Regions from separate parts of the Homo sapiens genome. Here region 2 is linked to region 1. The links come from fine-mapping of genetic effects on gene expression. A gene starts in region 1. The other region holds a variant in brackets. All regions are shown on one strand. Distances are between the middles of the regions. Region 1 holds the start of HPCAL1 (hippocalcin like 1). Region 2 overlaps HPCAL1 (hippocalcin like 1).

Region 1 (8,327 bases):
GAAGACCTCTTGTCTCATGCCACAGGTGGGGCTAAGACACCTCCACCCCCAGGCTCCTGGCTTCCTGCCAACTTGGGTAGTACCTCAAGCACCAAAAAGATCCAAATACCCAGACAACCCAGCTGCGGGATTAGAAGCATTCAGGGTGCACTTGCTTCTTAAGGTAAAGGCACACAGCCCCAAGAAGTCATCTTTCCTGCCCTGCTGCTGGCAGAGGAGGGTGGCAACAGGAAGAGAGTGGAGGTCTCTGGGAAGGATTTCTTTAGTTCGTCATGCCTCCGATGTGAAGCTTTGCCTCTGAAATTCAATTTTACTTGAAACAACATGGCCAAGGTAGGGCTCTTTAAAGGATTTACTGTGCTTTTCAGATGATTTAAAAATCTTGAGACTTGCGCCCTGCTCATCAGCATCTAAGAAATGTTCCACCTGTCAAACCGTATTGATTACCTGAAGTCATATTACAATCTGCACCACTAGATTCCAACCATTTTTTAGTCTTTGTAGAAAGTGATTTGAAGAAACCTTTTTTCCGTAGGGTAACTGGCACCAAAAGAGCCCCTAAGCCCATGCTGCTGTCTCCATATACAGCCACCCTCTGTCATTCCCAGATTAGAAACTCAATCTAAGGGGAAAAGCACAAGAGCTACCTGACATTCACAGATGTGCAGCTTTACATGAGGACATAAGAACGACACAGAAACCCCCTGCTACCATAGGAGAGCAGGGAGCCCCAAAGTAGAGTGTGATTAAAATCTACAAGTGTCTGCTCATCCTAACTCCAAACATGCCTCCCCCACCCCCCAGCACAGTGACATCAGGTGCTGACAAACTAGCAGAATACACATAATCCCCCATCAATCCTGGCCTGGCAACTCATCAGTTGAACGCATTATCCCACAATGAACAAGCACGGTTTAGGGCTTGCTGGAATGCAAAATTTTAATACAAACCTAACCCCAATCTAGATAAAAATTCAGCTGCCAAGTAGCTTAATCTTCGGTGCCAAATAAACTCCGGGGCCCCCGTTAGTACCCTGGATTATCACTGGTTCATGAGTGAGTGTGGTACTCTACCACTTATGAGTAGCAAAAAGGGTCTTAGAATAAGTGTCACAGGGAGACAACTGCTCTGACGCACACTCAGCAGGGCATGCACTGTACCCGCGCTGCAGACCTTGGAACTGTGCTTGCAGAGCCCTGAAGGTAGGGGGTGTGAGCACCAGCGCTTCAACAGGAGGAAACAGCTCCAGGGTGAAATGGTGCTAGGTGAGTATGGGGCGCCTGGCTGGGGCGTTTGCACCAAGCGAAGTCCAGTCCTTGTCCTTCCATAGACTGCACTTCTAATTCTGCACAGCCCTGTGGCCAGAAAGGGGACGGAGTGTGTCCACGTTCTTGTATTTCACTTAGAATCTATCTCTAGGAGGGCTTGTTGGAAATAAATGGGTCATTGGCTGGAGTTTGGGCAAATCTCTGTTCTTCTGGGGTTTTGACTTGTTCTGGTTTCTCCACAGATCAAAGGACCTTCCATTTATTGGATTCCAAAGACAAAGTCTCCCAAATTGTTATCACACATTGACATTTCTGTTCCACCTTAAAAACAGCATGAAAGTGGGACGCAGAGGGAGCAGGCAAGGCTAGAATGTGCCACCGTGGCACCACATCCCACCGCAAGGGAGAGGCAGGGCCCCCGGGCCTTCCCTTTGCCACATTATCCAATAAAACCTCAAGAGCTCAGTAATTACAGGCACTTTCAAAAGTGAAACAGAAATAGATCTAAGGCCAAAACACTGGCTTGCTTGAGACAAAGGGCTGGCTTTAACTAGAAAAAAACAAAAACAAAACAAAACACAAACCTGGGTTTGGGTCTGTCTTCTGAGCTGAGAAAGCCAGACTGATTTTTTTTTTAATATTATTATGGAACCTGATTATGAGGAAAGAGTAGGATTCACACCAAAAGCCCTTTTTTCTTGTAGGACATAAAATCATTTGATGAAACAGAAAACAGGGTGCATTCTAAGTGTGCCCCTGTCACTAAGTCAGGATGAAAAATGAGAAAATGAGTTCATCGCATCCCCCTGGCCTGCCATGGCTAGGATTGCAGGGCTTCAGTCTCGGCCGAGGGAAACCAAAGGAACCGGACCAGGTTTCTATCCCTGGCTCCTAAAAGCCCGCAAAGCAGCCCGCCTCTCTGGGAACACCATCACGTAGCCCCTGACAGTTGGGAAGCGCATCCATACCAAAAGGCCGCCCATGCTGTCCCCTCCGCAGCCCAACCCCATGCCGGCGCTCCATTTTGAGAGCCTCCTGCACTGGTGAGATCTTGGCTCCCTTGGTTAAAGGCGATTTTTTTCCCCCAGAGAAAGACACCAAGGCGATGAAGGGAAAGAATATCCTTCGCTCTGGCCGAGAGCCACCCGACCCCTAGAGCTGGCCTTGCTGCGTCCGAGCCAGCGCCGAGGCGCCAGAACTCTCCAGAGAGTGAGTCGTGGTAAGAGCTGGGTGCTCGTTCACTGCGGTTCAATTTTACGACTAGTAGGTTTCAAAAGTAAATGTTTTAAATTAAGGTGTGGGACTAGGAGGAGGTGTCCCATGTGGCACCCCCGGCATGAGGCTGGCTGCAAGGGAGCAGGGATGGCAGGGGCTGGGGCTGGGGGTTGTCTAATGCCGAGGCCAGCAGCTGGACTCGGCGTCCCTGGCAAACATCCTCCTCTGGTGGAATTGGGGTCAGCCAGGAGGAAAGGGGTGGCCTTTGGCGGCCGGGACACCCCGGGAGCCCGAGATCTGCATGTGCGGGAAGCGCCAATTTTACGCCGTGACTCTCGGACTCCACGAGCTGAGCTGCATCCTCCCGGACTAGGAACTTGTTGAACCAAAGGGTTCTCAACTCCGCAGTCGCTGCCTCCCGGCCAGGAGAGGGACCCCCACGCTTGCGCGGGAGCCTGGGGGCTGGGGCAGGGCCGGCGCCCAGCGCGGCGCTCTCGGGCACTCGCGGAGGCGGCGCCGCCCGGGAGGTGCTGCAGGAGGCAGCGCAGCTGGCAGCTAAACTTTCTCGAATCTCAGTGCTTCGCGGTTAAGTTAGGGCCAGGGAGAGGCACAAAACACGCCCGGGGAAAATGTAAGGCCCCACCCACGATAAAGGGGAAAAAAAAAGGATTTTAAACAGGAGACGCTAATCCAATTAACACAGTACCTACTGTGTGCGGGGCTTTGGACCAAGAGCTGTCTTCAGTGCGTTCTCATTTCACCTGTCACCACAGCCCCCAAGGGAGGAGCTGTCCTCATTTTAAAGAGAAGCAAACCGCGACCGGGGAAGGTGGCGCGTCTGGCCCAGGTCGCAGTGCGGGTCGCGGGGAGGCCAGGGCTCTCCTCGTCGCCCCATGGCCCTGGGAGGAACGAGCGGATCGCCTCCGCGTGGGCCCCCACCCTTGGCAGAAGCTCACAGGCGACCCACGTGGGCCGCACGGACCTGTTCCCTGAGGGCTGCCCAGCCTGCCCGCGAGGCCCGCCCTTGCCCGTCGGGTCCCAGCTGTCCTCGAGGCTCCTAAGCTACGCACTGCGCCGACCAGCAGGGACAGGGGGCTCTGGGCGTGGGGCTGGACCACCCACACCCACCCCGCCACCCCGCTCTGCGCACAGCTGCTCACACACGACACCCGCCAGGCACCGCTCCCCACCAGCAACTGCGCCCCGACACACAATTCCACAAACGCAGTCCAAAATGTGCACACCTAAGGCACACATGGATGCCCACGAGTACACGCCATTCGAAAGACACACCACCGTCCGCAGTCACCCACAACTCCACCGCGCAGAGAAACGCGGGCACTCCCGGACACACACACGCGCGCACAACACACACGCAAAGAGCCGGATCGCAGCGCTCGCCGGTGCACACGCCGGGTGCACACGCCCGGGGCACACTTCAGCAGCCAGCAGACCGCAGCCCGCCCCTTCCCTACCTGCTCCGGCGCAGGACGCGGTCCGCCGGCTTCCCGAGCCCAAGTTCGGCGCCGGCGGCGGCTGCAGCGGGCCCGGGCCGCTGCCCGGGACAAGCGCGCCGAGGCCGGGAGGAGTGACTAGCAGCGCGGGCCTCCGTGCGCCCGCAGCTGCTGCGCCGGCCCTGCGCTCATCGCCGCCCAGAAAGACAAAAGGAAGCCGGCAGCCAGGGAGGGAGCAAGGTGGAGGCGCCCGTCAGTCCGCCCGTCCGCTGCCCGCCGCCGCCGCGGCCCGCCTGCCAGCTCCGGGAAGGAAGGGACGCGAAGGCGGGACCTGGAGGCGGGACCCGGAGGCGGGGGCCGGGGCGGGGCGCGCGGCCAGAGGCGGGCGCTCAAGTTTCCTACGGCCCCGCCCCCTCCGGGCCCCGCCCCCTCCACGCCCCCTGCCGGACCCTCAGCGCCCGGCTCGGCCCTCGCAGCCCCTGCACCTCGCTGCTCCTCGGCCCTCGCGGCCCAAACCTGGCCCTGCCGGGTCCCAGCCCCCAGTGGCTTTCGGGACAGGGGCGGAGCCGGGCACCGGTTCTGTTCCCCTAACCCTTGGCCTCTGGCCTGCTGGTATAGAAGAGGCCGAGAGGCGGCGCCCGGGAGGGGCCAGCCCTGCGCCCGCGCCCCCCGCCCCCACGCCGCAGGAAGTGGCCCGGGCGGCCTAGGAAGGGGAAGAGCCGAGTTGCCCCAGCCCCGCACCCCCAGCCCCAGCCCCGCGTGCAGCTCGCACCCCTTCCCACGCCTGTTCGGGGGAGAGCCCCGGGCCTGGAGTGGGAAGCCTGGCTCCAGCTCTGGTTACCTGCAGTGACTCCCCAGGCCGTTTAGGCGAGTCCATTGGGCCGCCTCTGCCTCGGTTTCCCCACCTAACCACGGAAGGTGCTCCTCCCTTCCAGGCATCTGTGGTCTTCGAGCTCCACGCGGGAGAGGCGCCGGTCTGGCACCTCCTGCCCAGGGTCGGCGCCTCCTGGCTCTCGGGGAGGGGGGCATCCTCCATCCCCTGCACCTGCCTCGAGAGGAACCAGGGACAGAGCACCCCCACCCCCACCAGGAGCTCCGGAAAAACGGCTTCAGAAGAGCAAATATACACACACACCCACCTCCCGCCCCAAACATCCCCGAAGAAAGGTAACCACAGAAACAGCCAGAAATGTGGAGCTGGGCGATCGTATGAGGCTGAGACAAAACTGTCTTTCTAGCGTCTCTAGGGGAGAGCTTGAATCCCTCCTTCCACTCCTCCTCCACGGAAAACAGAGTGAACTCCTGCTACAGAGGCCGCCAGAGCAACATGCAAGACCAGCTTTGAGGGGAGCGGGCACAGGGCCTTGCAGGGAAGGTGGGCCGAGCCCAGACCCCTCATTCTTACTTGGCTCTGAAGGCGGAAAGGCAAAGCTAGACCTCGAGGAAGTTCCCCTCCCTGTGGGCCCTACAGTGAAGATTACATGAAGGCATGTGGGCGGTGGACCAGAGTGCACCGACTGATGAAGGCGGCCCGGTACCCGCGGGTGCCATGCCTCCTTCTTAGCCAAGGCCACTCTAGCTCCCCGTGAAGTATCCAGGTAGAAGGCTGGTGGGGTTACAGGTGAGAAGCCGTCGGTGGGGTCCAGGAGCCAGGCCTGGGGAAGCACACGTCACTTCCACCCACATCCATGGGCCAGAAGTAGTCGCACAGTCCCACCAGGATGCAAGGGGCTCTGGCAGCTGTGGTCTTCATGAGTGTTTCGGAAGTAAACAAAGCCGGTTTGATGAACACGTAGAAACATCCCTGCCACAGAAACTGAGCAGATTTCTCCCAAGCACACACAGGGCAAAGGGGCAAAGTCTGTCCACAGACTCACAGGAAGGGAGGTGCATGGCAGACACAGGCAGGAGGTGGGGTTGGGGTGGAAAAGTTCAGGGAGGGCTCAAAAGCAGACCAAGGCCTGTTTCTGAAACCCAGCCCACTCACTGGTTCCTCCACACTTGGCCCATGCTGTTCCTCTCCCATGTGACTTTTCCATCTTCCCCCTCCAACCTGTCACCCATCCATCCTTCAAAACTTAGGTCAGTTAGCTCTCACCTAGCCCTCAGCAGCTTAGCCCGCAGATGCTTCCTCTGTTTCTGAACTTCTAGAGAAACACACTTAACCGCAGACCTCTTATTCCAGGAGTGTATCTCTCTCAGATGAGATACAAGTTGGTCCCTTCCCTTGCGTCCCTCCTGTTCCTTCAAGAGGAGGACTGTCTACCCACCCCGAAGCTTCATGGAGAGAGAGCACACCGTCGTTATTCAATATGTAGTTTTGAATTTAACTAGAGCAAAGAAGAAAGCAAATTCAGGTAAGATGTTGTATAATTTCCTGGGGCTAATGTAACAAGCACCTCCAACTGGGCAACTTAAACAACAGAAATGTGTTGTTTTGTAGCTCTGGAGGCTGGAAGTCCAAGATCAAAGTGTTGGCAGGGCTGGCCCCTTTGGAGAGATGTGGGGGGCAGTTTGTTTCATGTCTGTCTCTTAGCTTCTGGTAACCTCATGCATTCCTTGGCTTATGGATGGCCATGTGCGCTCCCTGTGAATTCACATCTTCTCTATATACCTGTCTCTTTTCCCTTTTCATAAGGACACAGTCATTATTGGATTAGGGCACACCCTAATGACCTCATCTTAACTTGATCATCTGTGCAGACCCAATTTCCAAATAAGGTCACATTCACAGGTACCAAGGGTTAGAAGTTCAGCATCTTTTGAGGGAAACAATTCAACCCATAACAGGTGTCATGCTAGATAAACAATTTGTTTTTCATATGATGACTGTAAACAAGACAGAAGTAATTCTGATTGTTCTTAATATCTGACTTAGTTTTATGACAATTTTTTTCTAACTTTTATTATAATATACACATAACATAAAATTTATCATCTTAATCCTTTTAAAGTGAACAGCTCAGTGGTATTAAATACATTAATGATGTGCAACCAGCACCACCATCCATCTCCAGAACTCTTTTCATCTTGTAAAACTGAAACTCTATACCCATTAAATAATGACTACCTCTCTAATACCTTACATAAGTGGAATCATACAGTATTTCCTTTTTGCAACTGGATTATTTCACTTAGCATAATGTCCTCAAGATTCATCTATGATGTAGTGTATGTCCAAATTTCCTTCCTTTTTAAGGCTGAGTAATATTTCCATGTGTGTGTATACCACATTGTGTTTACCCACTCGTTTGTCAAGAAATCATTGGGTTGCATCCACATTTTAGCAATTATGAATAATGCTGCGACGAACATGGGTGCACAAATATCTTTTCAAGATCTTATTTTCAGTTGTTTTGGGTATATACCCAGAAGTGGAATTGCTGGATTATGTGGTCATTCTATTTTTAATTTTTTGAAGAAGCATCATAATAATACTTTCCACAGTGTACCATTCTACATTCTGCCAAACAGTGCACAGGGTTCCAATTTCTTCACATCCTCACCGCCAGCACTTTGTTGTTGTTGTTGTTGTTGTTGTTGTTGTTGTTGTTGTTGTTGTTTTTGAGACGGAGTCTTGCTCTGTCACCCAGGCTGGAGTGCAGTGGTGTGATCTCGGCTCACTGCAAGCTCTGCCTCGTGGGTTCACGCCATTCTCCTGCCTCAGCCTCCCGAGTAGGTGGAACTACAGGCGTGCGCCACCAGGTCTGGCTAATTTTTGTATTTTTAGTAGAGACGGGGTTTCACCATGTTGGCCAGGCTGGCCTCCAACTCCTGACCTCAAGTGATCTTCCCACCGCAGCCTCCCAAAGTGCTGGGATTACAGGCGTGAGACACCGCACCAGCCCGATTTTGCTTTTTGATGCACCAAATTTTTATGAAATCCAATTTGTCTATTTTTCTGTGTTGTCTGTGTCTTTAATGTCATATCCAAGAAATCACTGCCAAATCCAACATTGTGGAGATTTTGCTCCAAGTTTTCTTCTAAAAATTCTATAGTTTTAGGTTACTTTTAGGTCTTTGATCTATTTTGAGTTAATTTTTGTATATGGTGTTAGGTAAGGGTCCAGCTTCATTCTTTTGCATGTAGATATCCAGTTTTCCCAGCACCATTTGTTGAAAAAGCTGTCCTTTTGCCATTAAGTGATCATGGCACCCTTGCCAAAAATCATTTGACCATATATTCAAGGGTTTGTTTCTGGGCTCTCTATTCTATTCTATTGATCTATATGTCAAGCTTTATTCCAGTGCCACACTGTTTTGATTACTGTAGCTTTGTGGTAAGTTTTGAAATCAGGAAGTGTGAGTCCTCCAGCCTTGTTCTTTTTCAAGATTGTTTTGGCTGTTCAGGGCCCCTTGAGATTCCATATGAATTTTAGGATGGGTTTTT
Region 2 (8,327 bases), 34 kb before region 1:
AACCTGCCTCCAGACACATGAAGGGAGGTTAGTTCAGTGGCCATCACATGTAATTTATTCTGATTTTATTACATATCCAATATAGTATCTAGAATTTATAATGATATTCTATGAGGAAGGGAAAAAAGTGAAATAATTTAACCCAGAGAAGAGGAGTTTGAGAGTTAATTTCATGAACTCGGCATGAAGCATGATTATAAGAGTGCTGTCTTACCCGGAGGGCAGTAACAGGACAGGGATTCAGGAACAGGGGAGGACAGGCCCCAGGCGTGGGCTGGCTGGAAGGGCAGGGATATGGGGGAACTGCGGGGCCCTGCAGCCTGGAGACTTTCTTCTCCAACAGTGCTTAGGGATAAGACTCAGTCTGAAAGGAAGCCCTGATGTCTGAAGTGAGAGTTTGAAAGCAAAGCTTTGAGAGCAGCAAGCTTGGGGTTGCGTCCCAGCTCTGCCGCTTACAGACTGCGTGGCCCTGGAAAGTTCAGTCCCCTCTGAGCCTGCATCCCCATGGTGCCAACAGGTATGACACCCCCTCCTGGGATGTTCCTGCGCCCTCCTACAGATGACCTCTCAAAGCTACCTATTCCTACTATCTGAGGGATATTCTGAGTCATCCAACGTTAAAGGCACATTAATAACTAGAACATTCCACCACCAGTCCCTGGAAAACATGTTTATCAAGATAGTGGCACAGTTCTTAGCAACAGGTCCTACAATACTGTGGCTACACCTTACATGGTTAGAAAGCAGCCTAGACACTGCACACCAAGAAGCTCCAGTAATCAGTGAAGGAAGCATTGATATCTTTCCCGTTCAAGAAAGGTAACTGGGATCAGAGATGTTAAGCCGCTTCTCCAAAGCCACACAGCTGGTTGAGGGGCTGAAGTGCACCCTTGGGTCTATGTCTTCCTTCCGCTTTGTTGTGGGGAGGAGCCGAGGCAGGGATGGGGGAAGGCGGTGCAGGCACACCCCACCACTGAGGCCAAATGTTGAAGGCTCATACTATGAGAAGCAAGGTGATATCACAGGACCACAGATTTTACCAGATCAACAAAACCAAGTGAAAGAACTCATCCCAATGTCATGAAGCCCAGACTAACCAAGAATCCCCTCCCCATACCCCTCACATACACACCTGTGATGCCCAGTAGGACCACAGGGAGAGTGCTGGCTCCGCTGGGCGCACGCAGGGGCTCAGGCCTCAACGCACAGGAACCCCAGGAGGCCCACAAGCCTGGGGCCTCCGTTTCGCCAGCCCTGTTGCTACGTCCTGCCGGGCATGAACATGGCGAGCTATCTCCGAATCTTGCTGTGTAATCTTACATGCTCTGAGCCTCAATTTCCCCATCTGTAAAGCACAAATAAGAGGACCTACCTCATAGGATTGTTGTTTTTTAAACTTTTTACTGTAAAAGAGTTCAAATATGGCTGGGCGCGGTGGCTCACGCCTGTAATCCCAACACTTTGGGAGGCCAAGGCAGGCAGATGACTTGAGGTCAGGAGTTGAAGACCAGCCTGGCCAACATAGTGAAACTCTGTCTCTACTAAAAATACAAAAAAATTAATCAGGCATGAAATCCCGTCTCTACTAAAAATACAAAAATTAGCCGGGCATGGTGGCATGTGCCTGTAATCCCAGCTACTGGGGAGGCTGAGGCAGAGAATTGCTTAAACCCGGGAGGCGGAGGTTGCAGTGAGCCGAGATCGCACCACTGCACTCCAGCCTGGGTGACAGGTCTCAAAAAAAAAAAAAAATTAGGTGGGCATGGTGGCGCCCACCTGTAATCCCAGCTACTCCAGAGGCTGAGGCAGGAGAATCACTTGAACCCGGGAGGTGGAGGTTGCAGTGAGCCGAGATCATGCCACTGCCCTCCAGTCTGGGTGACACAGCGAGACCCTATCTCAAAAAAAATTTTTTTTTCAAATATACATAAAACAGAGAGATGAGTATAATGAATGATGGGCACCCATTCCTCAGCTTCGTGCAAACAAGTCCTGGCATGTGTGTCTGTCTGTGCCCTCACTCCCATCCTGCTGCTTCCTGGCAAACACATGGCAGCCACACATCCCTCCATCTCCAGCCACCTCAGTGCCACAGGGCTGCTTTGAGAATTAAATGAGATAACAGGAGTAAAGCACTTAGTTACAGTAGCAGGCAGGCAGTAAGTACTCAATAAACATTAGCTTGTATTCCATGTGATTATCAAATTAATGACCAAACCCCACCACTGCACCATGCTTCTGGCTGCCTCCATCTCTGCTTTTTCCTCTATCAAGTGGAGGCGACGCCACCTCTCCTGGACACTTTGTGGATACGCCTCAAAGCTCTACGGAATCCATGGAGGTGAGCTCTCCGACCTGCACCCTCCACGCACGTGGTGTCAAGGGGTCTTGCCAAGCTGACTCTGGGTGCATGTGGGGTCTGCACCATAACTCAGGACTGTGGCTTACTGACTTCATACATACCTGGTCACCAACACAGCACTGGGCACAGAGTAGGTGGCTGAACAATCACAGGTCCCGCTCCGTGACACCTGCCCCAGCCAAGTGACCCACCAACTTCATCTCACGGAGTCTCATGCCAACCCTACGAAGTAGGAATGATCCCTACTTCACAGATGGGAAGACTGAGACTCAACGAGGTTATGCAATCTATTTGAACACCACACAGCTGATATCCAGGCCGCACTGATCCAAAGTTCACACCCCATTCTCTTATGTTGCCTCCCAATAATTTGTCAATTTGCTTTGTGTGTTTTTAAGGGGTACGATTCAGTGATTTTCAGTTTATTATTCACCAGGTCCTACAGCCACCACCACTATCTAATTCCAGAACGCTTTTCATTACCCCCAGAAGAAACCCCGTGCCCCTTAGGAGTCGCTTCCCATCCCTCCTCCCCACTCCCTGCAATCACGAATCTATTTTCTGTCTCTTTAGAATTGCCTATTCTGCACCGCTCATGTACACAGAATGATAGAATATGTGGTCTTCTAAATGCGCCACTTCTAAAAAAGTCACTCTCCTTCATAAACAGCCACCTCTCTGCAGTTCTGTTGACTAACAGGATTTATGGAGCTCCCCTGACTTTCTCTAAAAATAGTAAATCCCCTCCCCAAGTCCAGTGATAGTCAGTGATACCTAAATACAGACTAAGCCGGCGCAGCCATGGCCGACCCATCCTCAGAGGGCAGGCTCGGAGGTACTGCCGGGAACATTGACAGAGACCATTCCTAAGAACCAGCCTGCACCTCCTGGGGGACTGAGAAACCAGCCACTGAGGACTGTGAAAAACGGGGCACAAGAGCAGGAAGGGAAGGTGGGAAGGAAGGGGCTGGGGGAAGATCTTAGCCACAGCCTCCAAAGGCCAGAGTGGAGGAGAAAGAGCCCAGAACAGAGCAGGGCCAGGGTCTACGCCTCATCCCCAGCTGTGCAGCCCAGAGCACATTTCTCAGCCTCTCTGAGCCTCAGGCACCTTGTCAGTGGAGGAGTGGAGAAGCACCTGCAACCCCACAGGGAGGCTGTGAGAAGTAAATAAAACGTGGAAATAATTTGAAAACTACCAAGCTAGATATGCTGTTATAGTCACGGTGGGCAACCGGGGAGCCAGGGACTATTTCTACCTAATAATATTGTTCTTCTTTTTTAAATGGTCATCAGGATGAATAATTACCTATAATTCACAGCAAATGCAGTGACAGTTAAAACCTAGCTGACATAATAAATAGTAAATACTTTACAAATATGCATATTCCTAATGTAGCAATTCTACTTGTAAGAATACGTGAGGAGGCACGAAGACACGAAAGGAGGGGGAGGCAACTGCTCATCACAGCACGTGGTGAGTGGTCTTGGCTCAAAATCCTCCCTCCCTGGCCTCCCTATGGGAGGGGTCTACTTCTAACCCCGCCAACACTGGTTGGGCCCCAGGGTTTGCTTCAGCCAATGCAATGTGAGGGGAACTGACACGCACCACATAGCCATTCCCACGTCTGAGCAGAAGCTTTAAGAGGTATATTGTTCCTGCCGGGTCCAGTGGCTCACACCTGTAATCCCAGCACTTTGGGAGGCTGCGGTGGGAAGAACACTTGAGGCCAGGAGTTCAAGACCAGCCTGGGCAACATAACAAGGCCCCCATCTCTACGAAAAATATAAAAAGTAAAAATTACCCAGGTGTGGTGGTGCATACCTATAGTCTCAGCTACTTGGGAAGCTGAGGCAGGAGGACCACTTGTGCCCATGATTCCGGGGCTGCAGTGAGCTATGATAGCACCAGAGCACTGCAGCCTGGGTGCCACAGCAATATCCTGTCTCTAAAGAGGAAAAACAGAAATAGAATTATGTTGTTCCACCATCTTTTTTCCCTCTGCCATGAGACCAGCAATGTCTCAGATGGGGCTGCTCTGAAAGCCTGGCTCCCTGAGGGACAACGTCATAGAGCAGAGCCACAACCAACAGGTGATGGTCATGTCACTTGAGGGACAAAGAATTCTTCATTGCTGCAAACCACTAAGATTTGGAGGGTCATTAGTACCAGAGCATAGCCCAGCT[G/A]ACCGACACACAGTCATGTTCCTACTAATGCAAAAGTGCAAACAACCTACACGTCCACCTAAATAAATAAATGACCCATCTCCACAATGGAATGTCAATAAAATGATGTATACATTGGCATAGAAGAACATTCTCAATACGCTGCTAACTGAAAAAAGCAGAGTATAAAATAGCATGAACTGACAAAGGATTAGTCTCTAGAGTGAAAAAAAGAAAATCTACAAATCACTAAGAAAAAGATAATCCACCCAAAAGGAGACTGGACAAAGGATATGAACATGCAATTAATTTACAGCAGAGGATACGCACATGCAATTAATTTACAGCAGAGGATACGCACATGCAATTAATTTACAGCAGAGGATACGAACATGCAATTAATTTACAGCAGAGGATACGAACATGCAATTAATTTACAGCAGAAGATACGCACATGCAATTAATTTACAGCAGAGGATACGCACATGCAATTAATTTACAGCAGAGGATATGAACATGCAATTAATTTACACCAGAGGATACGAACATGCAATTAATTTACAGCAGAGGATATGAACATGCAATTAATTTACAGCAGAGGATACGAACATGCAATTAATTTACAGCAGAGGAAAGCAGAAAGGACAATAATGTATCGAAAATATGTCCAACTTCACTAGAACTTAGGGAAGTACAAATTCAAATAATCATGAGATACTATTTTACACCCATCAGAGTGTTCAGATGTTAAAGTCTGACAACACAAGTGCCGGAGAGGTATGAGGAAAAGGAGCTCACTGACCCTTGTAGAGGGGAGTGAAACTGCCACAAATGCCTTGGAGATGAATTTAGTAATAAACAGTACTGTTGAGCGTGAGAATACCATAGCACCTGGCAATTCCACTGCTAAATATTCTAGACCTCTAAGGAATTCTCAGGGTGTGCTCGTATTGGTTATCTGTTACCGTGTAACAAATGACCCTCCAAAAGTCAGCAGCCGAAAACAACAAACATTATCTCACAATTTCTCTGGGCTGGGAATCTGGCTCAAGGTCTCTCATGAGGTTCCCCTTTGCTGTTTTCAGGGCAGCAGTCTCATCCGAAGGCTCAGCTGGGAGTGGGGAGCGGATGGAGATCTGCTTCCAAGCTCACTCACATGGCTGTTGGCAGGCCTTGGTCCCTTGTCACCTAGGCCTGCCTCTCCACAGGACTGCCTTGAGACATGGCATCTGGCTCCCTCCAGGGCTGGCAATCCAAGAGGGCAACAGAGAACACCCAAGCTGGCAGCTGCAGTCTTTTTATAACCTGATGTCAGAAGTGATGTCCCATTCCTCCTGCTGTGTTCTATTTGTTAGAATCAAGTCAGTTAAGTCCAGCCAACACCCGAGGGAAGGGATTACACAAGGGTGTGAAGACCAGGATGTGGGGACCAGTGGCGGCATCTTAGAGGCTTCCTTCCACAGCACTCAAGGAGGATCAATATTCATATGGCACTCTTTATACTAATGAAAAAATGGAAGTGACCTAACTGTATATGACTAGAGAAACGATGGCTTATTTAGACAATGGGGGCTGGCACAGTGGCTCACGCCTGTAATCCCAGCAATTTGGGAGGCCAAGGCAGGTGGCTCACTTGCGCTCAGGAGTTCAAGACCAGGCTGGGCAACTTGGCAAAACCCTGACTCTATAAAAAATACAAAAATTAGCCAGGCATGTACCTGTAGTCCTAGCTACTTGGGAGGCTGAGGTGGGAAGATTGCTTGAGCCTGGGAGGTGGAAGTTGCAATGAGCCGAGATCGTGCCACTGCACTCCAGCCTGGGTAACAGAGCGAGACCCTGCCTCAAAAAAAAGTCAATGGAATTGTATACAGCAGTTAACAAAAAGGAGAAAAAAGAAGACCATGAACCACATCTATGTATCAACATGGATACAGCTTAAAAATTGTTGACAAAGTAGTCAAGAACAAATTACAAAGTGATATATATATATACCATTTATGAGTATTTCTTTCTGTTTTCTTTTCTTTTTTTTTAAAGACAAGGTCTCACTCCACTCCATCATCCAGGCTGGAGTACAGTGGTGTGACCACAGCTCACTATCACCCCAAACTCCTGGGCTCAGGAGAGCCTCCCACCTCAGCCTCCTGAAGAGCTGGGACTACAGGTACATGATGCTGCACCCACCTAACTGTTGTTGGTTTTTTTGTTTGTTTAAAAAACAAAACAAAACAAAACAGGGTCTTGCTATGTTGCCCAGGCTGGTCTTGAATTCCAGGCCTCAAGCCTCCTCCTGCCTCAGCCTCCCGAAGAGCTGGGATTACAGGCGTGAGCCACCATGCCTGGGCCACCATTTATGAGTATTTCTAACACATAAAAACTAATGTTTTGTTTAAGGTTACGCACATGTGTAGCAAGAGCGTAAAACGCGCACAAATATGATCCCTACTTCCCTCCGCAGAGTGGCTATTGGTCACTGGGGAAAGAAAAGAGTAGAGAAGAGGAGAGATGGGCTTGGGCTGGCTCTGTAATGCTCTACTGGAATTTATAGTACAATCAATCAAAATAAAACAAAAATATGGTCTTATTTTTGCTAAAACATACCCACATTTCTGTTACACATATCTACAAAGCATCTGTAAAATCTGGACACAGATGACATTATTTTATTCCTTTACAGGTTGATGTTCTTGATGGCATTAGGTCTCTTCACCTATGTTTCTAGACTTTATGCACACTTCTGGAGAGGCAGAAATGAGTCTGGAGGGGTATAGCTCAGAATGCTAATAAAAGTTATATGGAGGTGGGCAGGGTAGTTATGGGGGAATTTTTTTCTCTGTTTTTCTGTGTTTTCCAGTCTTACCAAAGAGACATAGAATATTTGGGTAAAGAAATAAAAACTTTCTTCAAAAATCAAATCAAACTCAAAGCCAAAATGGCCACAGCTGAACACCAAAGCACACCAGCTCTGAGAGCACAGAGCAATTCCAGGAAGGTTTGCCTGGGAACACAGCTGCCCACGTGGGAAGAGAAGGTGCTGGGCCACAGGAGGCTGGCTTAGGCTGGCTTGGGCTACGGTGATACATCTGCCAGCAGGATCCCGAGAGGTGCCAAGAGGCTGCAGCCCACCCATCCCTGGAGGGAATGGCCTCCTGACTTTGCTGAAAGGAGGAAGTTGTGAGGCCAGGCTGGCTCCTTGACCTCCAACAGACAGCAGGGGTCAGATGGAGAAACGTTACACCAGTTCCCCAAGACAGACACAAACATCCACAATTCACTGTGACCACCTGATTCACGCTCCTTGGTAATTTCCCGAGTCTCTCCTGTGAAAATGCATTAGTTTTATCGTAGGGAAATTAGTAAACTTTAAAAAGAGAAGAATCTTTGTCTAGCATTTACAATGCCCAAGAGGCTGATTAAAGACCCAGTGCAGAGATCGTCAGCAGGTCAGGCCCCTGGTGGCAGCGTCCAGGCGTCATGGGGCTCAGGCAGGGCCCACTGTGCCCCACACATCCAGTGAGCCCTGAAATCTCCCACAGAGCCCCAACAAAGACCCACCCTGCCCCTCCCCCCTGCACCCCTCACCCCAAGATCAAACTTCACTCAGGCTCCTCTGAGCCCTCTTTCTGCCTCCTGTCTTCAGCCTGCCTGGCCCAGTCTCAGCAAGAATCCTGCTTAGTCAGTTTAGTGAGCCTCTCACGCCCTTCACATCTGACCACCCTTGAGATCCAATCAGTCCTCATCCCCACCTTTGACATCAAAGTCCCCCCCTGCCTTTGGCAAGAATCCCCCTACCTGTGATGTC

Evidence for each region.
Region 2: its variant is fine-mapped to the expression of HPCAL1 in whole blood (INTERVAL, PIP 0.97).

What each region holds. Positions count from the first base shown.
Region 1 is chr2:10,298,809-10,307,135 of GRCh38, reverse strand. It overlaps HPCAL1 (hippocalcin like 1), which reads right to left and starts at 4,232. Exons shown (of 5, transcript NM_002149.4): 1 at 3,959-4,232. It overlaps LOC101929691 (a long non-coding RNA gene), which reads left to right and starts at 4,419. Exons shown (of 4, transcript XR_922791.3): 1 at 4,419-5,558; 2 at 6,123-6,294. RefSeq lists silencers at 3,338-3,517, 3,836-4,033, 3,918-4,697 and an enhancer at 3,598-3,657.
Region 2 is chr2:10,332,745-10,341,071 of GRCh38, reverse strand. All of the region lies in intron 1 of HPCAL1 (hippocalcin like 1), which reads right to left. Among named protein-coding and RNA genes, the nearest start is that of HPCAL1, 34 kb to the right of the region's middle. The variant G/A (reference allele first, on the strand shown) is at 4,547.